Linked DNA regions of Homo sapiens. The protein of the gene in region 6 interacts with the protein of the main gene of each other region in a biochemical or structural test. Each region holds a gene or a part of one and is shown on either strand. Other genes may lie near its edges. The genes, in order: FHL1, BPTF, NFIA, ANP32B, CDK8, SMAD2 and PPM1A.

Region 1 (2,404 bases), on a different chromosome or scaffold from region 6:
ACACCCCACGAACAGCCCAAGTTTGCCTCCTGGTGGCCACTTTGATGTCATGGCCCTGACCTAAATCAAAGAAACTGGTTATGCTGGGAGGTCGGTGCGCGTCACAGGGCAATAGCGTGGTGGCATGGGAACGTGGGGTCTTTACATCAGGGAAGCCCTTGGCCGGGCTTCAGCATCTTCTCAGGTCCTTGAGAGCCACAGCAGGGTTGCGGCGGCATGGGGGACAATGGCGGCGTGGGGGACTGTGCACGATGGAGTGGAGGAGGGGGTCTGGGAGCCAGGCAGACCTGGCTCTTGCGTGCTTGTCGGTCTGTGAGTGGGGCAGGTCGTCATTTTATCTCTCTGAATCGTGGTTTCCTCACCTGTATTCATTCAGCTGTTTCTCTTGTTTTCTTTTCTTTTCTTTTTTTTTCCCCCCAGGGTTTGGTAAAGGCTCCAGTGTGGTGGCCTATGAAGGACAATCCTGGCACGACTACTGCTTCCACTGCAAAAAATGCTCCGTGAATCTGGCCAACAAGCGCTTTGTTTTCCACCAGGAGCAAGTGTATTGTCCCGACTGTGCCAAAAAGCTGTAAACTGACAGGGGCTCCTGTCCTGTAAAATGGCATTTGAATCTCGTTCTTTGTGTCCTTACTTTCTGCCCTATACCATCAATAGGGGAAGAGTGGTCCTTCCCTTCTTTAAAGTTCTCCTTCCGTCTTTTCTCCCATTTTACAGTATTACTCAAATAAGGGCACACAGTGATCATATTAGCATTTAGCAAAAAGCAACCCTGCAGCAAAGTGAATTTCTGTCCGGCTGCAATTTAAAAATGAAAACTTAGGTAGATTGACTCTTCTGCATGTTTCTCATAGAGCAGAAAAGTGCTAATCATTTAGCCACTTAGTGATGTAAGCAAGAAGCATAGGAGATAAAACCCCCACTGAGATGCCTCTCATGCCTCAGCTGGGACCCACCGTGTAGACACACGACATGCAAGAGTTGCAGCGGCTGCTCCAACTCACTGCTCACCCTCTTCTGTGAGCAGGAAAAGAACCCTACTGACATGCATGGTTTAACTTCCTCATCAGAACTCTGCCCTTCCTTCTGTTCTTTTGTGCTTTCAAATAACTAACACGAACTTCCAGAAAATTAACATTTGAACTTAGCTGTAATTCTAAACTGACCTTTCCCCGTACTAACGTTTGGTTTCCCCGTGTGGCATGTTTTCTGAGCGTTCCTACTTTAAAGCATGGAACATGCAGGTGATTTGGGAAGTGTAGAAAGACCTGAGAAAACGAGCCTGTTTCAGAGGAACATCGTCACAACGAATACTTCTGGAAGCTTAACAAAACTAACCCTGCTGTCCTTTTTATTGTTTTTAATTAATATTTTTGTTTTAATTGATAGCAAAATAGTTTATGGGTTTGGAAACTTGCATGAAAATATTTTAGCCCCCTCAGATGTTCCTGCAGTGCTGAAATTCATCCTACGGAAGTAACCGCAAAACTCTAGAGGGGGAGTTGAGCAGGCGCCAGGGCTGTCATCAACATGGATATGACATTTCACAACAGTGACTAGTTGAATCCCTTGTAACGTAGTAGTTGTCTGCTCTTTGTCCATGTGTTAATGAGGACTGCAAAGTCCCTTCTGTTGTGATTCCTAGGACTTTTCCTCAAGAGGAAATCTGGATTTCCACCTACCGCTTACCTGAAATGCAGGATCACCTACTTACTGTATTCTACATTATTATATGACATAGTATAATGAGACAATATCAAAAGTAAACATGTAATGACAATACATACTAACATTCTTGTAGGAGTGGTTAGAGAAGCTGATGCCTCATTTCTACATTCTGTCATTAGCTATTATCATCTAACGTTTCAGTGTATCCTTACAGAAATAAAGCAGCATATGAATAACCTGCCTCCTGTCTTTTCATTCTGCCTGGTGGAATCGCTATAAGGTGATACTCCTAATCCAGAAACCTAAATGACTTATTTTCCTTCCAGGATATACTCACTTTAGTGCAGGCGCACAGAACATAGGAATTATAAACAAACCTGTAAAAACCACACTTGATTGATAAATAAATAATTAAAAACAAACAGAAACCACTCTGACCTAAAATAGTATTTCCCAGATTTTCACATCCCTGAAAAAGAAAGAAAACGATGAATTGGTTTGATTTGGCCAGGGGATTAGGGAGGGAATCCCTGATGAAGCATGGCACTGAGAAGCCATCTTGGTCCCTGTTTGTTGGGTGCTTCCTCGGTGTGCCTTTCCCCTTGTGCCCTCTGGAGCCTGGGGTCCAGGTTGAACGTGACCATCTCAACTGCGGCTGCCTCCACCTGCCAGCTGAATGACACCCTCGCTCCTTCTTGTGGATGTGGCTCACTAAGGAAGCTGCCCATTTGGGCCC
Region 2 (3,500 bases), on a different chromosome or scaffold from region 6:
AAGTAAGAATATTTATGTTGCTTAGTAGGAAAAACATCAACAATCCAGAGTTCCAGTTCAAGCTCCCCCAATGGTCAGCCAGTTATCTGTCCACAAGCAACACTGTTCCTCCAGATCCAAGTTTCCCAATCTATAAAATAAAGGTATTGAATAACTAAAGTCCCCACAAAATTCTGATTTTAAATAATCTTATATTCATATTTTACAATTTCAAAAGCATCTTCATAGATACTGCCTCATTTGATTCTCACAATGGACTTGTGACTTTATGGGGTAGGCAGAGAAAATATTCTTCTGATTCCCAACTAAGAAACTCAGGTTAGAAAGGTCAAGTACCCTGGCCAACTTAAAGGTGAGATAAAAGAAGGAACCTAGATCTCCTGAATTTTGTCTTTCAATACGTGCCAAATTACCTATGGGGTGTGTGTGTGCTAAACTGTAAAAAGCTTAGGGTTTTAGATATGTAATGCAAACACCAAGTAAGGAGGATCACTAAGGTCTGAGCAGTTACCAAAAAGGGGTCCAGAAATTTAAAATTCTCTAGGCGCTCTCTCTTCTGTCCAGAACTGTAATTCAACTAGAAACCCTGAATACCAGGAACATGCTGGAGAACTGGAAAGCAAAAGTAAAAACCATCCCCTAAACTCCCAATGACCAAAACTGATGGCGCAAAGTCCATGTACTAAGTAAGCTCCATATACATGTGAATCCCTCAAAACTTATTTACTCTTGCTTTTCTAAAATACATTTTTTATGCACAAAATGCACAAAACACCAAGTATAATTTAAAAATTATAAAGTAAACATCTATAAAACCGCCACTGTGGTCACCATTGCCAGTGTCCTAGAAGTCCCCATATGACTCACCCGGATTTCAATTCCCTCCCTCTCCCCTAGAGGTAAGCACTATCCTCACTTTGATGATAACACTGTATTTCATTACTACTTCGGTATGTATCTTAGGTATATATAAGGCCACTGAGGTTCACAAACTCAGGAGCAATATTCACAAAGAATACAATGGGAATAGTGCCCCCTCCAGGCAGGCAATGCAGCAGCCCTGTATCCCTACACAAAATAGCTTAGTTTTGCCTATTTCTGAATCTTATACAAATGAAATTATAACATGTATTTTTTTTGGCAGCTACTTGCTTCTTTAGCTTACCATTATATATTTGTGAGAATCATCTGCATAGTTCTGTGTGGCTGAAGTCTATTCATTTTTATTGCTGTAGGAATATACTACAATTTACTTAGCTAACTGATTTTGATAGACACCTGAGTTGTTCTTAGTTTTTGATTCTTATGAACAATGCTGCTACCAATATTTATGCCATGTATTCTGGTGCTCACATGGCCAACAACTTCTCTAGGGATATACCTAGAAGGTATACTGGGACCTTGGGCATACACAGCTTTGACTTTACCAGACCATGTCCAGGAAGTTTCCAAAATGGCTGAACCGACTGATAGGCCCACCAGCTGTGCATGAGAATTCTTTCTGCTCTATGTCTTTGCTAACTCTTGGTTTTGTTGGACATTTAAATTTGTACCAATCTCTTAAGCATATGGTTTTAATATGTACTTCTCTCATTATTAATAAAGTTCAGCAGTTTTTTGGAATTTGGGACATTTAGATTTCTTCTTTCCTCATAATGTTGGTTTGTCCTTTTTTTTTTGTTTTTCTTTTTTTTGAGACGGAGTCTGTTGCCTAGGTTGGAGTGCAGTGGTATATCTTGGCTCGCTGCAACCTCTGCTTCTTGGGTTCAAGCAATTCTCCTGCCTCAGCCTCCCAAGCAGCTGGGATTACAGGCGTACACCACCACGCCTGACTAATTTTTGTATTTTTAGTAGAAACGGGGTTTCCCCATGTTGGCCAGGCTGGTCTGAAACTCCTGACCTCAAGTGATCCACCTGGCTTGGCCTCCCAAAACCTTGGCCCCCCAAAGTGCTGGGATTACAGGTGTGAGCCACCGCACCTTGCCTGTTTGTCTTTTTTCCTATTGATCTATCTGGATTTTTTTCTTTCTTGATTTGTAGTAATTCTTTATATATTCTGGATATGTAATAGTCCTTGGTTGGTTCTTTTCTCATTTTCTTCACTCTCTCTGTAGTGAGTTTGATGAACAGAGGTTCTTACTCTTATTTTTAAAGTAGTTGAATTTATAAATCTTTTCATTTATGGTTAGCATTTTCTATCTGTTTAGGAAAGCTATGAAGATATTCTTCTATCTTCTAAAGGTATTATAGTTTTACCTTTCACAGTTAGGACTTTCATCCTCCTGGAATTGAGTTTATGTAGAGTGAGGTAATAATGGTCCAATTTCACAGTTTCCCATGTATATTCAATTGTCCTGGCACCATTTACTGAAAAGTCATCTCTTCCTCAATGATCTGCAATGTCACCTTTGTCATATAACAAGTGTCCACATACATGGGGTTCATGTTCTGCACTCTCTACTGTTCTGTTGGTCTATCTGCCTCTCCTTATGTCTGTACCTCACTATATTAATTAGTGAAGTATTATATACTAAGTTTTTTGGTTTTTTTTAGATGAAGTCTTGCTTTGTCACCCAGGCTGGAATGCAGTGGTGCAATCTCAGCTCACTACAACCTCCGCCTCCCAGGTTCAAGCAATTCTCCTTCCTCAGCCTCCTGAGTAGCTGTGATTACAAGCGCATGCCACCACGCCCAGCTAATTTGTTTGTACTTTTAGCAGAGATGGAATTTCACCATGTTGGTCAGGCTGGTCTCAGACTCCTGACCTCAAGCAATCCACCCGCCCTGGCCTCCCAAAGTGCTGGGATTACAGGCGCAAGCCACCATGCCCAGCCTATACTAAGTTTTGATATCAAGTTATCATATATAGGGCAAATAATCCTGTTCTTCAAAGGTACAGATATTCTTAATACTTTGTACCTCCATATAAACTTTCAGTATCAGCTTGTGAAGTTTCACTAAAAACAAAACCTCTTGGGATTTTGATGGGAGCTGCATTCAATTTATTAATCAATATTAGAAGACTTGCTAACAATATCGAGTCTTGCAAGGAAGCAGCTTAATGTACTCAAATTTTATTTGTCTCATGGAGATTAGCCAACTAATAAAATTTTGGTGTTTAAAAGGGTTATCTGTCTCACTGTTTTAGCTCACTGTCTAAAGATTACTCTAGTAGTTGGGGTTTATTATATCCTGTCTAAGAGGTATTTCTGCTTGACTCCAGGAAGCAACCATTTCTTCAAATCAGCACATTTAAAAACGTATCAAAATAAGTTCATGTTTTTAAACTTACCGCAAGAATAAATAAGATCACCTCTAAAGTTAAAATAAAGCTTATGTTACTTACGTGGCCCTGTGTTAACTGAGTAAGTTGAGCCATGGTGAGCTTCACTTGTCCTTGTTGGGGGCGAGGGGGTTGTGAGGCTGAAGACTGTATATTTGAAGTGGACGTTGCTGAAGTTAAGCTTTTCTGCCCAGGTGTTGAGGAAACCGTGTTAGGG
Region 3 (3,500 bases), on a different chromosome or scaffold from region 6:
AAAATATTGCCTCAATACCAAAATAAATGCTTTTAAACTAGATCATTTGTCAGTTAAAATATACTCTTTATTAAAAGGGTTTTCACGAGGCTTCTCTCATCCCCTCATCAAAAAATGTGATTTAAACATATCACATATCTGATTACCAACGCCTCTGAAAACACTACTTACCAAAAGAGCTGAACTTAGTGAGAATTCGCTCAAAGCTATGCTTTTTCACCTGAATGAAGGTGGCACCTCTCTCAATCTTTGAAACCACACTGGCTTCATGTACGTGGCCTGCAACTTGGGGAGCTCAGGAAGAATCCGGCATAACGCGGAGGCCATCAGGAAAGAAACACACACAAGAAAGTGGGAGGAATTCTCACCATCGCACTTACCTGCTGCATGCACAAAGTATGCCAAATATAAATCGAGTTCCTTAACAGAAACCCCTATGTGATGGGGTTGGACACAGAGCCCTGGATTAGAGCATTGTGGGGACTTTACAAGGCGCTCGCCATCAGTACTTTCCAGCGGAATACCTTTAAACAAAATCACCATAACAAGGTCCAACCTCCAGACTTTATCTGCCTGGCGGAGGCAGTCAATTCTTCGCATCTTGCCTTTCTGGTCTGGGTTGGAAAGAACACAACATGGAGGTTTTTTCCCTGTAACTGTAAGAACAAAATCCTCTCGATATTCGGGTCGGATATCTTTCCGCAACTTTGCCAGAAGTCGAGATGCCCACTTCTGCTTGACCTCTGGTTTTTCACTTAGCAATTCATCCTTCACGGCTCTCTCTTCTTCTTTTGACATACGCTTTTCATGTTTTTTGAAGTATTTTCGTTTTCGGGCCTGCAGGTTGAACCATGTGTAGGCAAAGGCTCGGACGTGGGGCAGAAGTGCTTCGATGAAAGGATGAAATTCATCCTAGGAAAATGAACAAAAAGAAAAATATAAGTAGAATGAAAACAAAAGAAAACAACTTTTCTTCAGCGGGTCACCTTAAGAAAGAAATTCCTCATTTCACTTGAAATTTGATTAGAGCATTCTGTTACCAAAATCATACACAGGATCCTATGGGAAGTCTGGGAAGGTGGGAGAGAAAACTATCAGTATCATTTCTTATGATCGGAAATAAAAAAACTGCTGAAAATTAAAAAACTGTTTTAATATGTTCACCAGGGTACACCAGCTACTACTGTCGGGCCTAGCTCCCCATCCTTTAGATAGTAAGTGAAGTTTATCTAAATGCTTATAACAATGTATAATCTTAACCCTATTTCAAGGAAGGCATATCTAATTTTGTCCCAGCCTTGACCTCACCACTTGTAGTACAGCCAGGGCCCAGCCGCCAGATTGGCAAATCCTAAACATTTAGATGCCAGTCAATGTTTATGGAAGTCTAGGAGCAAAAAATCATCTCTACAATCAATGAAAACAAAGGCTTTCCCCCTAAAAATATTGCATGTAGATTCTGATATGTTTCTTACTCATTTTGCTAGTGTCTAAATTCCCCTTTTAAATATTATAACTACATATAATTTTTTTAGTCAAAAACTAGGACAAATTTGGGAGGTTCATATACAAAAGAAGGATTGAATTTGATATTTATTAGGCTAAAATAAAAGATCTATGCCCAAGACATAATTGCTAATACTATGGGAATGAAACAAAAAGGGGGAAGAAAGAGGAAAAAAAAACAAAGAAAAGCATACATGAATACATTTAATTTACTAATATGATTGTGAAGTGCTTTCAGTAATAATCATACCTAAAAAATAGATTATTTAATTTTTGCAAATACTATTTCAGGATTTTTCTCATAGGGAATCAGAACCTGGTATTTTCAATATTTACAAGATGCCGGGAAAACCCTCATAGATGCCTCTTAAAATTGAAAAAAAAATTGAGTTTCAAATATTTAAATGTTTCTTTCTGTTTTGCTTAAAATGTTTGATCCTTATACATGACATTTTCTTAGGAAATATAAATATATTTTTTAAAAAATTAAGCAGTAACCTCCACAAAGCTTTCGGAGTACGTCTAACTTTTGATTAACTAATCCACACTGTTACATAACTTCTCTCTGCCACATAACCCCCTCTCCAAAACATAGATTACCTTCAAATAAATGAGGATTAGAAACCAAAGAAAGATTCGATGGCTTTTTTGCTAAATGGTGTAGGACAGACAAATATTATAAAATGCATTCTTTTTCAGTTTGTTATATCTAACTAAATATATACTTTCAAGGCACAGGTAGCAGTAATGTCCAGAATATTATTATTAACACAATTACTAAATTTTTAAATGTTCAAATGTGAACTGATAAGGTAAAATATTTAATAGTCGTGTTGTTTAAAAATTTAGCAAATTATAATCAATCATTTAAACACTCTATATGACTGAGCTTTTAAAAGTAAGTATATATTAATACATAATAAATTACTTCAATAACTGACTTTTTTCCTCTCTGCACAAATTTCAGGTTCTATGTTTCAAGTTTAGCTTTCAAAACTGCTCTTTTTCAATAAAAGAATCCAAAAGAGAAGTAGTCAGCTTTTGTAACACGTGTGCATTCTTTAAGTAGAGAGAGAATAGAAAAAAATACAGGAATTGTTATTCTTGCCATAAACCATTAACATTTTTAAAATTTCTGATGTTTGAGAATATTTCTTATTCTCATACTTTAGGTGACAGGCATGGGGGGCAAGTCACAGTTTATCTGCAAAGGTATACGCCAAACCACAAAGCATCTAAACGTTACTAAATTCTGAGCTCATCCTTGAAATGATCTAAAATACATAAATTTTAGGTTTGAAACAGAACTTCACATTGACTGATTTTCTTATATATACAAGACATGCTAGGGACCAAGACTCTGTTGTATTATGCAAAAAACTCCTGGAGTCTACCTTAAACTACCAAGTGAGCTTTCACCAAAAGGAGGACTTCATTTTAAAGTTTCATCCCCATTTTATAATGCAAAGTATAACTTAGCTCCAAACGATTCATATCTATGTTAAAATGTTATCTTATTTAAAAGTTTGATTAATGATAATAAGCATTTAAAATAAACATTCTAATATGGCATTTTAAGTGTCTGTAGATACTCCCAATATGCTTTTCAAAAAACTGCAAACTGCATGCATGCATTCGTGTCCAACAGGATTCTGTTTACCTGCCAACCAAATGCCCATATATCTCATCATAAAAATCCTTAAACAAGAACAACTATGTCAATTAGTCATTAAGAATAACTTAAGTCCCCAATTTTGCATCAAAAGTATTTACAATGTATTACTCCCCAAAGGTTAAGAACCTGCCAGTAAAAGTCCACAATATTTTGTATAACTTTACTCATATGCACAATTAAAGTATTGATTTTTTCTAATGTATCTTTCTCAAGTCATGATTTAAAATATTCCAGAATATCAAAACTAAAGAGTATCATTAGCTTGCAAGAAATGTCCAGGAATAGCATAAATGATTAGTTAAAAAAAAAAAGTAGTGTG
Region 4 (3,500 bases), on a different chromosome or scaffold from region 6:
ATTAAAGGTTGTGTTTATGAAGCTATCCAGATATATGTAGTTATTGCCCCTATTCTGAAAGGCACCAGGCTATGTGCTACTTCACATTGGATTTGCCTTTCATAGGCTGCTCCCTCTTCTATCTACAAGGGTCTGCTGTCACTTCCTGTTGCTGTCTCCTGACTTGCCTATAGTGTAGTACCTCTGCCCTCTCAATCTCTTAATTTACCCTTAATCAAAACTTAATAGACCTGGGATTGAAATACTAGTACACTGATATAATAACAAATGAAGATCTGAGTAAATACATAGACATTTTCCAGTGCACTTTGACTACTCAGAAAACTTGACTTGGGCCAACTTTTTATAGCTTAACTGTTTTTAGATAGATGAAACTGATGGTTCCAAAGAAATGAGGTATTGCAACAAAATTTCAAGGTATGGTAAATAAAATCAGAAGAACTTTACATCATAAAAGTCTGGTAACATGTCAGTCTTTTCCCCAAATACTAAAAAAGAAGAGTGCAATGTTTCTCCGTATTTCCGAAGTTTCAACTCTGCGCCCCTCTGCTTTTTCCTCAGCCCATATTGACTCCTGTCTTCCCTGAAAGTAGCTGCATTGCCACACTTTATATTTTATTATATTTCATCCTCTAGTGTTTCATGTCTGTGCCCTAACTAAAATTGTAAGCACCCTAAGATTGTGTTATAAATCTCTGAATTTTTCCCTATACTGCCACCCTAGAACATTAAAGACCGCTTGATACCCAGGAAGTTCTTAATGGCCATTTGATTACTCAAATGTTAACATTTGTTTCAGCTAAATTTATTAAACTGTTTGATTGTCTCATACTGTGAAAATACCTGGATTTAATAAAAATTATTTTCAATTTATATTTCTTTAGACTACTATGCTGCCAGAAAAACACATAGTTCTCTGGGAGAGTAGATAAAGGAAGAGAGGGACTAAAGTCTAGTAACCTAATATAAAGGTTGCAAAAGACTTGATGTATTTTTCTATATATGAGGCTGAGTGGGTAGTGGAAATTGAATATAGAGCCTAGAATTTTACCTCTTCAAGAGATGGATTTGTTACTTATATTCCTTTGGTTTAGGAGTTGTGGTTTTTGATCCTTTTCTTCAGAAAAAGTTAGAATGTCTGAAAAGCCTGGACCTCTTTAACTGTGAGGTTACCAACCTGAATGACTACCGAGAGAGTGTCTTCAAGCTCCTGCCCCAGCTTACCTACTTGGATGGCTATGACCGAGAGGACCAGGAAGCACCTGACTCAGATGCCGAGGTGGATGGTGTGGATGAAGAGGAGGAGGACGAAGGTGAGTAGGCTCAGCATCTGGTGAACCTGATGTCTGCCTTTCAAAGCCTCTGATAAAAGCTATTGGATGTTGGCCGGGCGCAGTGGCACACAACCGTAATCCCAGCACTTTGGGTGGCCGAGGCAGGGGGCATTGCTTGAGCCCAGGAGTTTGAGACTAGCCTGGGCAACATGGCAATACCTTGTTTCTACAGAAAATAGAAAAAAAAAAAATTAGCCAGGTGTGGTGGCGCACACCTGGAGTCTTAGCTACTCAGAAGACTGGAGGCCGAGGTGGGAGGATCACTTGAACCTAGGAGTTTGAGGCTACAGTGAGCCATGATTGTTCCCCACTGCACTCCGTCTCAGAAGACAGACAGGGTGTCTCAAAAAAAAAAGCTACTAGATGTTCTTACTATTGAGGAAAATAGTGTGTGTTTGTGTGCGTGCGCACGCGTGTATTTTTTGAATGTAGGCATTCCATTAAATTTATAGCTAAGGCCTATTTCATAAGCACCTGGCCTCAAGGGATCCTCCCACCTCAGCCTCCCCAAGTGGTGGGATTACAGGGATGAGACACTGAACCTGGCCCGGGAAGCATTTCCTGAAGTCTACAAGCTAAGTTAGGATGCTGTGCGTTTAAACTGTAAACCGCTTGCTCTTACAGGCTTGCCACTCTGCTGTTCTTAAGTCTTCCTACTTCAGGGGTCTTCAACCCACAGGCCACAGACTGGTACTACTCCATGACCTGTTAGAAACCAGGCCGCATGAGCAGTGAGGAAGCCTCATCTGTATTTACAGCCACTCCCCATTGCTCACATTACTGTCTGGGCTCCACCTCCTGTCAGATCAATGGTGGTATTAGATTCTCATAGGAACGAGAATCCTATTGTGAACTGCACATGTGAGGGGGCTAGGTTGTGTGCTCCTTAGAAGAATCTAATGCCTGATGATCCGAGGTGGAGCTGAGGTGGTGATGCTAGAGCTGAGGTGGTGATGCTAGCACTGGGGAGTGGCTGCAAATACAGATTAACATTAGCAAAGAGGTTTGACTTTACAGAGATGATAATAAATCAATTGCTTGCAGACTCATCAACCCCTATCTGTGAGTGGCAAGTGACAAGCTGCATCTGGTGGCAGGCTTTATAGTGGCAAGTGAGTTGGTGTACTTCAGTTGTACAGCTGTATCTGGTGACAGGCTTTAAGTCAGAATCTGATGCTTTTTTTAGTCAGTGCATGGCCTGCCCATTTTTTTATTTACCACTTCCATCCACACCTCTTTCCCGCACTGCGTATTTGTCTCAGTCACAGTTTTGTTAGGCCCACAAGCTAACTATCCAACATGAGTAAAAAACGTCGCTGGAGAGCTTCTTTGAGAAGGGGGAAAGACCCAATAATGAGACAGCAGAAGACAAGACTGCCAATGAAAAGAAAGCTTCATTGAAAAGAAAATACCAAGAGTGCTACTTAAATTACAGGTTCATTGCAACAGATGATTCACATTCTCCAAGCCCACTTTGTATAATATGTGGCAACAAGCTATCCAACAAAGCCATGAAACCTTCAAAACCACTTCACTGGCTGGGCACAGTGGCTCATGCCTGTAATCCCAGCACTTACAGAGGCCGAGGTAGATCACCTGAGGTCAGGAGTTCAAGACCAGCCTGGCCAACATGGGGAAACCCTGGCTCTGCAAAAATACAAAAATTAACCAGGCATGGTGGTGCACACCTTTAGTCCCAGCTTCTCGGGAGGCTGAGGCATGAGAATTGCTTGAACCTGGGAGGCGGAGGTTGCAGTGAGCCGAGATTGTGCCGCTGTGCTTTAGCCTGGGCGATAGAGCAAGACTCCATCTCAAAAAACAAACAAACAAAAAAAAAACTGCTTCACCACTTGGAGACCAAGCACCCTGCGTTTAAAAGACAAGCCTTTGGAGTTTTTCAAAAGAAATAAACATGAACGTGAAAAACAGAGGCAATTATTGAAAGCTCCCACTTCATCAAATGTGACTGCACTGAGAACATCTCATTCTTAGTGGCTAACTGCATTGCTAAAGCTAAGAAGCCCTTAACTAACTGCATTGCTAAAGTAAGAAGCCCTTTACTATTGAAGAGTTGATCCTGCCTGCTGCTAAGGACATTTGTCATGAACTTTTAGGAGAGGCTGCAGTTAAGCTGCAGTTCAAAAGGTGGCACATGTTCCTCTTTGA
Region 5 (3,500 bases), on a different chromosome or scaffold from region 6:
AGCCCTGCAGCATTCGCAACAGTGCATGGACAAGATTCCGATGCAGCTCAGTACCGATGTGTCTGATGTGAGTACTGTGGAGGCTGCTGGGAGGTAGCTGAGTATCCCATGCTGCTCTGCGGCTGTGATGTGCTTGGTCCAGGGTTGGGATAGGCAGCATGTGGATTGGAACGCTGGAAAGGAGATGAGGGAAAAGTGTGATTCAGGTGCTTCTAGGGGAAGCTCAATCCCAATATGTGACTGAAGTGTCATTATGTTTCAAGGAAGAAAGGATGTATAGGTTTTGTGCTATGTACTAACTTTATAATTAAAGACAAAAACCCCAAATATTTTAACATCCTCTTCTCTTGAGGAAGGTCAGAAATATTGCTAGTAAATAATATTAAGCCTAGGCTTATTACTATGCTGTGCAAATACATTTTTTTCTACAGGAGTAACCCCTTTTTATGCTGTTTTGTATCTACTTGGTAAATTTGCTTGAGATGTTTACCCAGAAACTTAATGATGTATACATAAAAAATTCAAAGCTTATTTACATGCTTTCTTCAGTAGAAAACTCACCCCCACACACATGACTGAAGAGTAAAAGTGAGTATGATAGGAGAAGGTATCACAGAATCCATTTCTTTGGCATTAATACATTTTTATGCCCTTTAAACTATTTTTTTTTTCTTTTGAGACAGGGTGTCACTCTATCATCCAGGCTGGAGTGTAATGGTATAATCATTGCTAGGATTATAGGCATGCACCTCCATGCTCAGCTAATTTTTAAAAATTTTTTTTGAAGGAACAGAGTCTTGCTATGTTGCCCAGGTTGATTTCAAACTCCAGGCCTCAAGTGATCCTTCCCCTCAGCCTTCTAAACCACTGGGATTACGGGCATGAGCCACAGTGCCTGGCCCCTTTAAGCTACTGAATCTTATTTTCTGCTACAAGTTTATATACAAAAGTAAAAATATAACCACAGTAAGAAGGACGGTATTCTCAATTCTAAAATGGCACAAAGAGAAAGAATGTGATGGTTTGGGGTTCTCTAATTTTGATATGTTAGATTATTATTCCCATTCTCACACCTCTCTCTCATACTATTTGCTCCCAAGACAAACACTATAAAAGATTAACCAGAACTTATTACTTCTGTCTTTCAAAGCATATTTAATAAGACATATAATTCCAAATTCTGCCAATCCTAGAAAAGGTAACATTTTTAAAAAGAGTGGACACATGAAATGATAGTCACAAATACTATTTTAAAATTCATCCACAAAAAACCAACAACAATCACACCAACAAAGCAGCATGGCATCATTTTCTCGGTTCCAGAAGCGAAGGTCAGAGCACTGCTCTGCTTCCTTCTAAGGATGCCATCACCTTAGTGTGCAAACACATTTGTGGGCCAAGAGAGATGCACTCTTCCCATCCGGAAAGGAAGAAAAAGATACTGGAACCAACAACTCCCACAGCTGTCTGCCCTTGGTGTCCTTGTTTAGCTAACTGGAAGAGAATTACTACTCACACAACAGTGATTTCCATGGTGTGATGGGCTGGACTTCTCCCCTAACCAAAAGAAAGAGTTAATACCTAATTCTGAAAGTACAGTAACGAGCACTCGGGACCTTATCAGTTTAATAACATCTCTTTCTCTCTCTCTTTTTTTTTGTGTGTAAATAATTCTAATTGGTCAGATTTTCAGTATCCTTCCCACACTGAACCCTTGTGTAGTTGGGAATATGGTTAGAATAAGCAGAAGAGAAAAGGAGGTGGTATACAATTTTCAAAGAGGGTCTTTCCACAACGTAACTGACAATGCCATGATAGGATCCCTAAGCAGGCAACATAACAGCCTTTGTGGTCAGATCAAATATGAGTCCTGCATCTACAGCTTGCTGGGGATCCATGTGAAAGTTATTTAACCTCTACAAGCCTCAGTTTCCTGAAATGGCTGCAACACTTAACCTCCCAGAGTTATCTCATTTAATCCTTACTACAGCTTCACATTGATCATTATCCAGTCTACAAATGGAAACTGAGAACATCTGAATCACTTACTCAAGGATACAGAGAAGTAAGTGGCCAGACTGGGATCTGAAAGCCTATGTTCTTAATCACTGTGAAACATTGTTCCAAAACAATAGCTATCAAGCTCCTACCATAAGCTAGGTGTCAAGCCACTTCATGTCTAATCTGACAACAGCTGCAAGTTAGGTTTTACTAGTTTCATTTTACAGATGAAAAAACGCCAGGAGATATTATCCTACTTGTCCAAGGTCACACAGTTAATAAATGGCATAATTTGTATTTGATCATTCCAAGTCTGGTTCAAAAGTCTAAACCCTTGCTACCATACCACTGTCAGTACTTTTCCATGCCAGTAACATTTCATGTTAATGTATTTCCCTGGGTATACAGACGTCAGTATTTCTCAATTAAATCACATTTTCCCACGATCATAAACCCATATGTAAACACTGACATGCAGTCAATACAAAATAAACTTGGAATACCTGATAGTCTGAGGTCATGATAAGTCCACCTGAGGTAGTGGTAGGAGGAACAACTCTCACTTTCTTCAACGGGGGTCCCTGTGTGTGACTGCTGTCTTGATTCCCTGGGTGGCCAGTTCCATTAGTGTGGTTATTGCCCTGCTGCTGCTGCTGGTTCTTCTCAATTGGTTAAACAGAAAAAGTTCAGCTCAGAGGGAGAACAAAATATACCCACAATGGAAAATGTTATGGAGGCATTCACGAAACAAGAAGCTGCTAACAGTACTTTAATACTTACTTTGTCTCCTTTGTCATCAGGTTCTTCTTCCGTTAAAAATTCTCGTTTTGGGTAAGGGATTTGACAACCGGCAAAAACGCTGATCATAAGAAAAAGAAAAACCATTTCTGGTATACTAATCAATATTCCAAATGCTTCATTTAGGAGATTCTCATTTTAATCTTTTAAGATGAACTTTGTCTCCATATTTGCAAATATAAGCACCTTTCATGTAACTGTGACAAAACGAATCTTTTCTTTGTAACTAGTAATATTACAGCAGGCTACTTGAGGGCTTGAGCTGTATACAAATGATCAATAATCATCGAGTATGATTCAGCTTTCTTCTTTTATCCCAGCATTACTCTTCTATTAATACAGACCAAATATAGATTCTAGCTGAAGTATGTGTCACCATTCAAAGGTAATTTTTGTTTTACCCTTCCTACTACATTTATTAACAAAACAAAAGATGGTATAGGGAACACATTTGGGAATATTTGCAATTTTGGAACATGAAACTGTAACTGCAGACAGTAAGGAGCTACAGCACGCATAACCAACCTGTCACTGAATAGCTGGATCACTACTGAAACTAATGTGATCAGCATTTCATAAAGCAAGAGATGAACAGGAATGCCTCTTAACTGGAAAGCCCCTAAATGACACTTTAATCAGCAAAGCTCATTTTTGCTTGTCATAAAGGATTTCCTTGGGTTCCCATATAAGAGGAGGAGCAA
Region 6 (3,500 bases):
CAATTAAGTCACAAAAACAAAAAACTATTTTAGTTAAAGCACCTACAGCGACACTGGGTATCTTAATAAGATTATCCAAATTTATACATCAAGCAAGATTTGAGAACTTCCACTTGGAACCAAGTAATAGATCTTCTAGTCACTATCATTTTGCAGTATCAAAATCACACTTTGATAACCAGCATTACTTCTCACAGGAGGTAATGGTTAATTAGAAAAAAAACAGAAGCAAACTACTGTTAAAAGAAGTTACTTTAAGGTGATGAGAATGATGTTCAATTATGAATGGTTCTCACACTTTTTCACTTCATCGTTAAGGAAATACTGAGGACCCCAAAGAGCTTTTGTTTATGTGAATATTATGGAAAATGACCATATTAGATATAAAAACTGAGATTTAAAAAATTCATTTAAAAATCAAATCCATTACATATTAACAATGTTTATAAAAAACAACTGTATTTCCAAAGCAAAAAAAAAAAAAATAGAGTGGCAACATTTCACCATTTTTGTCTATGAAAAACAACTATATTTCCAAAGCAAAAAAAAAAAAAAAAAAAAATAGAGTGGCAACATTTCAACATTCATGTCTAGTGTAACAGAATTGGAGTCTCATTATCAAATCTACATTTCATCTCTTGCAAAATCATATGCATGTAGGCTCTGGAATACTCCACTGTACAGTCATGAGAGTATGAGAGTAGAAATGGCAAACAGCATCTCAGTACTACTATGAAAATAGCTTTGACCTCACAAACTAGCTGAAAGGGTTTCTGGGACTACCAGAAGTCCCCAGACCACATTTTGAGATGTCCCTGAATTATATTTTGAACTATATTAAATGCAGTTCTTGTTTTAGATATCTCATTTCAGATGAACAGCAAGCAGATTTCATTTAATATATAAACTCACCAAAGGGGGAAAAAACCTGGGAGCTATATAAAGAAACTGAAAAAAAACAAAAACAAAACAAAACAAAAAAACATGATTTATAAAAAAGTATTAACCCCCAAATCTGAACATGGCAATTTTATGACTGGTAGAGACTCAGCAAATTAAACTTATCTTAACACATATTTATTGAAGAACTTTCCAGTACCAAGGGTGCCAAATAAAAGTTGAAGAGTTTGCAGCTGAAGCATCACCAGGATCTATTAGAAGCAGTGAAGCCTGTGCACTTAAATGTGTCGGCACTTAAACCACCAGAGAGAAAGCTGGTTTTACTGCACACAAGCTCTTGATGTGGCACACCATGCAATGCCTACATTATGAGTATACAGCATTTATTTTTCACAACAAGGAAAATAAAACATACCTATATGCCTTCTTGTCATTTCTACCGTGGCATTTCGGTTAACATTGGAGAGTAAACCTAAGCAGAACCTCTCTGAATTTGATGGGTCTGTAAAGCCATCTACAGTGAGTGAGGGCTGTGATGCATGGAAGGTTTCTCCAACCCTCTGATTTAATTCATAATATGCTATCGAACACCAAAATGCAGGTTCTGAGTAAGTAACTGGCTGTAAATCTGAAAAAGAAAAAAATAAAAAAATAATAAAAGGAAGAAATGCGTGAACAATTCAAGCCAAAAATAGATTTAATATAATCATCTTTACATGCTCTATGCCAGCCTGCACTGGCAAAAGCTCAGGAAGTAGACATAGTATCTGTATCGGTTTCCACAGATGATACCAGATTTTCAGTATTTTTCACACAAAACTCCAGTTTCATAGATCATACCAGATTTTTTCAAATTTCTCCCATGTCATTAAATCACTTTATGTTGGATTCTTTGTTTTACCAGTAGTTTTAGTCTAGCTCCTGTTCAAATACAAAACAATCATAGGCAAAGTCAGTCAACTTGCCATACTTGGTGCATTTCTAAAGCACATAAAAAAGCTAAAGTGGGGTAAGATAAAGCCAGAGCAAAGATTAATGAGTCAAAAGCCACACAAAGAAAAACAGTAATAATAAAAGGATACAAAATATGACATATTTTTGACATTTGTCTATTTTAACATCAAACTCTTGGTGAGATACCCTAGCTACAAAAAGAGAAAACCCACTCATACATAAGAACCAGAAAGCAGTAACACACAAAGATCATGCAAGTAGAAACAGACCATAGAGTCAAAAGACTACTTATTTCACTGGAAAACTATATATTTAGCTTCTGCAGTTTGACTAAAACATATCATAAGGAATACTGCAAAAGAAAAAAACCTCACAATTTTGTAGAATAAATTCCAAACATGTAACAACCGAAGAGAAATTGTGAAATAGGGTAAAATGAGGGCAAAAATAATAATAGTAATACAGAAATGTATGTATATATATATATATATATATAGTCATCCCTTGGCATTTACAGGGGATTGGTTCTAGGACCGGCTCCCCCTAACTAAAAACCCTTAGATGTTCAAGTCCCTGACATAAAAGGGTGTAGTATTTCCATGTAACTTAAATTCACGTCATCCTGTATACTTTAAATAATCTCTAGATTACTTATAATACCTAATAATATAAATGCTATACAAATATTTGTTATACTGTATTTTAAAATTTGGGCCCAGCACGATGGCTCACGCCTGTAATCCCAGCACTTTAGGAGGTCAAGGTGGGTGATTCGTTTGAGGCCAGGAGTTTGAGACCAGCCTGGGCAACATAGTGAAACCCCATCTCTACTAAAAATACAAAAATTAGCTGGGTGTGGTGGCATGCACCTGTAGTCCCAGCTACTCAGGAGGCTGAGGCAGAGAATTGCTTGAACCCAGGAGGCAGAGGTTGCAGTGAGCCGAGATTGCGCCACTGCACTCTAGCCTGGGCGACAGAGCAAGACTCTGTCTCAAAAAATAAATAAAAATAAATACAATTTGTATTAGTTTTTACTGTCGTATTGTTATTTTCATTTTTTCCCGATTATTTTCAATCTGCAGTTGGTTGAATCTGCAGATGCTGAACTCATGGTTATGAAGGGACCATACACATACACATTTGTACATATATGTGCACACTCTCATATATATATTATATATAGTATATATATATTATTATATATATGTATAATATATATTATATATTATATATTATATATATTATGTATAATATATATTATATATTATATATATTATGTATAATATATATTATGTATGTTATATACATATTATGTATAATATATGTTATATATATTATACATAATATGTATAATATATATTATATATATTATATAATATATATTATATATTATGTATAATATATATAATATATTATATATATTATGTATAATATATATTATATATTATACATAATATATATTATATATTATATATTATGTATAATATATGTTATATATATAATATATATTATGTATAATATATGTTATATATATAATATATATTATGTATAATATATATTATATATTATATATATATTATATATATTATGTATAATATATATTATATATTATATATATATTATATATATTATGTATAATATATATT
Region 7 (3,500 bases), on a different chromosome or scaffold from region 6:
CAGACTTCAGTTGATATAATCTAACATTTTTCAAAATAGAGTCACTCACTGAGTTCATGAATTGTGACATGCAATTTTTTTGTGTATGTAGGGAGATAGATGCTGAGGAAAGAGAGAAAAAAACCTTTTCAAGTGAAAGTTCTATTTAATAGCTTAAAAAATGTGTAACCACCTACCTCCTATACTTGAATAGCCACACCTCAAATCGCATGGCCCAAAATGAACTTCTCAACTACTGCCACTTCTTAGTTCCACATCTGAGGAAACAGATCTATCCTTAGTCATAAGCTCATAGAATCCTCTATTTCCCTTATCGCAGCATTTATCTGGTGAATTATCTCTCACTTTAGATTTTAAGATCCAGGAGGAAAGAGATTATGTCTTTTTTGTTCATATTTAACACATGACACTTGACGAATACATGAGACAGATGAATAACAGCCATTATACCTTGGCTTCTCCCTTGTCAACACTGATTATCTTCTATGCAGGAAAAAGTATTTTCAGAGAAGTTGGCCGGCCAACAAACTGTATCCTACCATTTTCCATCTATAGAATACATGGTTGTCTTTTATCCCTACAAAAATATCATAGTGGATTTCTAAAAAGAAAATATTGGACCCTAAAAGAAATCTACGGCTTAATCAAAACTTGATTTTCAGATTACTGTTCATCAATGACTTTAAAAAGTTTATCAACATCATTAGATACACACTCCCATTATTGAAAAATGGCACATAAGGAAGGGAACAAAAGAGAAAAAACATAGTTATGACTAAAAGCCCACACATTTTCTTTCCCTGAGCTATTTATTTATTAATCTGCTCATTCATTCAACATTCATGGATGGATGAACTTTTTCTAAAGTTTTCTCTACACAATAAGCCAAGTATAAAGTAATTCAGACACAAACGAATTTCTGGGAGCTGGGAAATCCATTGTCAATGCATTCAATGTAGTCTAGCCAAAAATATCTCTAACTTAATCTTGGAGTTTTACTACATAAAACAAGTAATACTATTTACACTTATAGAGCTACTTATTTTACTGACTGTAGCAAACCAGAAAAGATCACACTAGATGGCTGACTAGTTGAAACACCTGCTTACTGTATCAAGAAGCATTTACGCAGAAAGAGAAAATGAAGATGACAGATATGGACTAACAAAGGGTAAGCTGTGGGTTGGTCACAAAACAAAAACTGCCACTTCTAAGATTGGCCCCTTGGCAACCAAAACAGTCTTACAGGCTGTCAGAAAGGATAATACCCTACTGCTTTACAAAAAGTGAAAATTTTATTTCCTATCTACTTAACATTCTGAGGTATGATGGCATACTGCAAAGATGTTTTTCTAAAGCCTGGTAAGTTATGAGATTCTGTTTGGAAAAACAAAAACAAAAAAATATATAGCCATCCCTTATCTTTTATCATTCACATTTTCATTTCTGAATTTTGGTAATAAAGGTAAGCACACTTCATCTTTATACACACAGTACCAAATTATGATGTGATCCTACTAGTCATGATAAAGAAAAAGGTAGTACTAAGAATCCAAGACATTCAAAGTTGGTAATGAATTATATTCTTATTCTTTAAAACAGTACAATAGACAATTCTTGAATAACATATTCTTTAAAATAATTAAGCCACCTAAAGTATAACTAAAAAAAGAATGTTTACTTACATCCCTCCCTGAGGTGGTCATATTATAGATGAATACAAAACACCAGCCTAAATTTAAAGTGATTATACATGACCCATGCTTTCTCATAGTCTGCTGTATTTCCAGCTCACATTCAATTTTCTGTCATGTGTTCATCAGAAAATGAACAGGGAGACTATAAAAATTTAACAGTCATATATTGATAATCTCTTTAAATGAATGAAACAAGACCTGTTTTTAAGGAATTTATTTTCAATAAACATTGAAGTTACCATTTATAGTATAATCTCTATTGTAAACTCAGCTAGCTTGTGTTTAAGACTATCTTCTCAGACTCACTGAGAATTTCATTTGAATAAAGGATCTGTGAAATAATTTATATCAGTGGGTTGCAAAGTAGTAAACATGAATAAAATTTTAAGCCATAAGAAAAAAGTGTGTATGGCTTGTGGAACTAATTGTATTATGGCCATATCTTATGCTTTTTTAATATTAAAAAATGTAATAGCTCTTCTTGGGGAAAATTTCTAAAGGGAGCTAACATATGATAATATACTTTTCAAACTTAGTATACACTGCCACCTCAAATCCCAACTCAATCACAAGATTCACTCTCTGGATACAATGGAACAACAGTCATACCCTTCATGTACAAAGATTTTGACCCATCACAATGGCCAAGAGACTTACTTTCCGCAGTAGCAATGAAACCGCATGGATCAACAAATTATTTCTGCAAAGTCCAAGAACATGTATTAGGCTTCTGTTAATAGCTCTGAAACTCTTGGCAAATAACTGCTCTGTTTCAAATTTCCTCATCTGTTAAGATATAGGTAGTAACAGTATCTAGCTCATAGGGCTGCTATGAAGATTTAATGAGATAATAATTGAAAATCTATTGTAATAGTCCCTGGCACATAAGAGCTCAATAATGTTAGTTATCATTGTTAGTTGCTAACGTCAAGGCTAGGAAAACATAAGAGGAACACAAAGTATCAAGAGGTCTCATTAGCATTGTTCTCTAACAAATGGATCTAAGCCGGCACTGACTGACTATATGAAATTATCCATTTAAAAAGCCAATAAATTTTACTATGTATTTTCTTTTTTCTTCTTCTTTTTTTTTAGACGATGTCTTGCTCTGTTGCCAGGCTAGAATGCAGTGATGCAATCTTGGCTCACTGCAACCTGTGCCTCCCGGGTTCAAGCAATTCCCCTGCTCAGCCTCCTGGGTAGCTGGGACTACAGGCGGGTGGCCACCATGCCCGTGCCACCACGCCTGGCTAATTTTTTGTATTTTAGTAGAGACAAAGTTTCACCATGTTGGCCAGGATGGTCTCCATCTCCTGACCTTGTGATTCACCTGCCTCAGCCTCCCAAAGTGCTGGGATTACAGGCATAAGCCACCACACCTGGCTGGTATTTTCTAAACACTGAAAATAGTCTAGCATTTTGATAAGCTTGAAAGTCTAGCTTAGAGGTTTATTTGAACACAGAGTATGCATATTATTAGATACTTGTTGGGTTCAAATTAAATCAGCTGATAGTTATCTCTCTTCTTTAACACATCATCTAATTCCTGTGATTCCACAATTCCTCTCTGGTTAAAAGGACACAAAGTTCATGATAATATTTGCAAATGTAAAATACTCTGAAAAGAGATATGTGATTATAAATGTCCTGTTAACCCTCAAAGCCAAAATGTAGGAAGTTAAAATGAAGCTTGTAGGTCCAGGATCAGTCAACCTAGTCTTCTACATCAATATAAGAACACTGCCACACTTCAGATTTGTATAATCTTCACACTTAAATATCCAGGTTCAGAAAAAATAACAT

The links.
Region 1: the proteins of SMAD2 (region 6) and FHL1 form a complex in vitro, tested with the Homo sapiens proteins (one study listed by BioGRID).
Region 2: the proteins of SMAD2 (region 6) and BPTF form a complex in vitro, tested with the Homo sapiens proteins (one study listed by BioGRID).
Region 3: the proteins of SMAD2 (region 6) and NFIA form a complex in vitro, tested with the Homo sapiens proteins (one study listed by BioGRID).
Region 4: the proteins of SMAD2 (region 6) and ANP32B form a complex in vitro, tested with the Homo sapiens proteins (one large-scale study listed by BioGRID).
Region 5: of the proteins of SMAD2 (region 6) and CDK8, one has a biochemical effect on the other in vitro, tested with the Homo sapiens proteins (one study listed by BioGRID).
Region 7: the proteins of SMAD2 (region 6) and PPM1A form a complex in vitro, tested with the Homo sapiens proteins (one study listed by IntAct).

The regions. Positions count from the first base shown.
Region 1 is NC_000023.11:136,209,451-136,211,854, forward strand, and holds the end of FHL1 (four and a half LIM domains protein 1), read left to right. Parts: intron 1-420; coding exon 421-575; 3' UTR 576-1,904; downstream 1,905-2,404.
Region 2 is NC_000017.11:67,940,503-67,944,002, reverse strand, and holds part of BPTF (nucleosome-remodeling factor subunit BPTF), read right to left. Parts: coding exon 3,347-3,500; intron 1-3,346. UniProt on the Homo sapiens protein: Regulatory subunit of the ATP-dependent NURF-1 and NURF-5 ISWI chromatin remodeling complexes, which form ordered nucleosome arrays on chromatin and facilitate access to DNA during DNA-templated processes such as DNA replication, transcription, and repair.
Region 3 is NC_000001.11:61,085,561-61,089,060, reverse strand, and holds part of NFIA (nuclear factor 1 A-type), read right to left. Parts: intron 913-3,500; coding exon 381-912; intron 1-380.
Region 4 is NC_000009.12:98,003,841-98,007,340, forward strand, and holds part of ANP32B (acidic leucine-rich nuclear phosphoprotein 32 family member B), read left to right. Parts: intron 1-1,123; coding exon 1,124-1,313; intron 1,314-3,500. UniProt on the Homo sapiens protein: Multifunctional protein that is involved in the regulation of many processes including cell proliferation, apoptosis, cell cycle progression or transcription.
Region 5 is NC_000013.11:26,400,629-26,404,128, reverse strand, and holds part of CDK8 (cyclin-dependent kinase 8), read right to left. Parts: intron 2,861-3,500; coding exon 2,782-2,860; intron 2,664-2,781; coding exon 2,505-2,663; intron 174-2,504; coding exon 48-173; 3' UTR 1-47.
Region 6 is NC_000018.10:47,847,160-47,850,659, forward strand, and holds part of SMAD2 (mothers against decapentaplegic homolog 2), read right to left. Parts: intron 1,529-3,500; coding exon 1,316-1,528; intron 1-1,315. UniProt on the Homo sapiens protein: Receptor-regulated SMAD (R-SMAD) that is an intracellular signal transducer and transcriptional modulator activated by TGF-beta (transforming growth factor) and activin type 1 receptor kinases.
Region 7 is NC_000014.9:60,255,721-60,259,220, reverse strand, and holds part of PPM1A (protein phosphatase 1A), read right to left. Parts: intron 2,398-3,500; exon of another isoform or gene 2,355-2,397; intron 258-2,354; exon of another isoform or gene 1-257. UniProt on the Homo sapiens protein: Enzyme with a broad specificity. Negatively regulates TGF-beta signaling through dephosphorylating SMAD2 and SMAD3, resulting in their dissociation from SMAD4, nuclear export of the SMADs and termination of the TGF-beta-mediated signaling.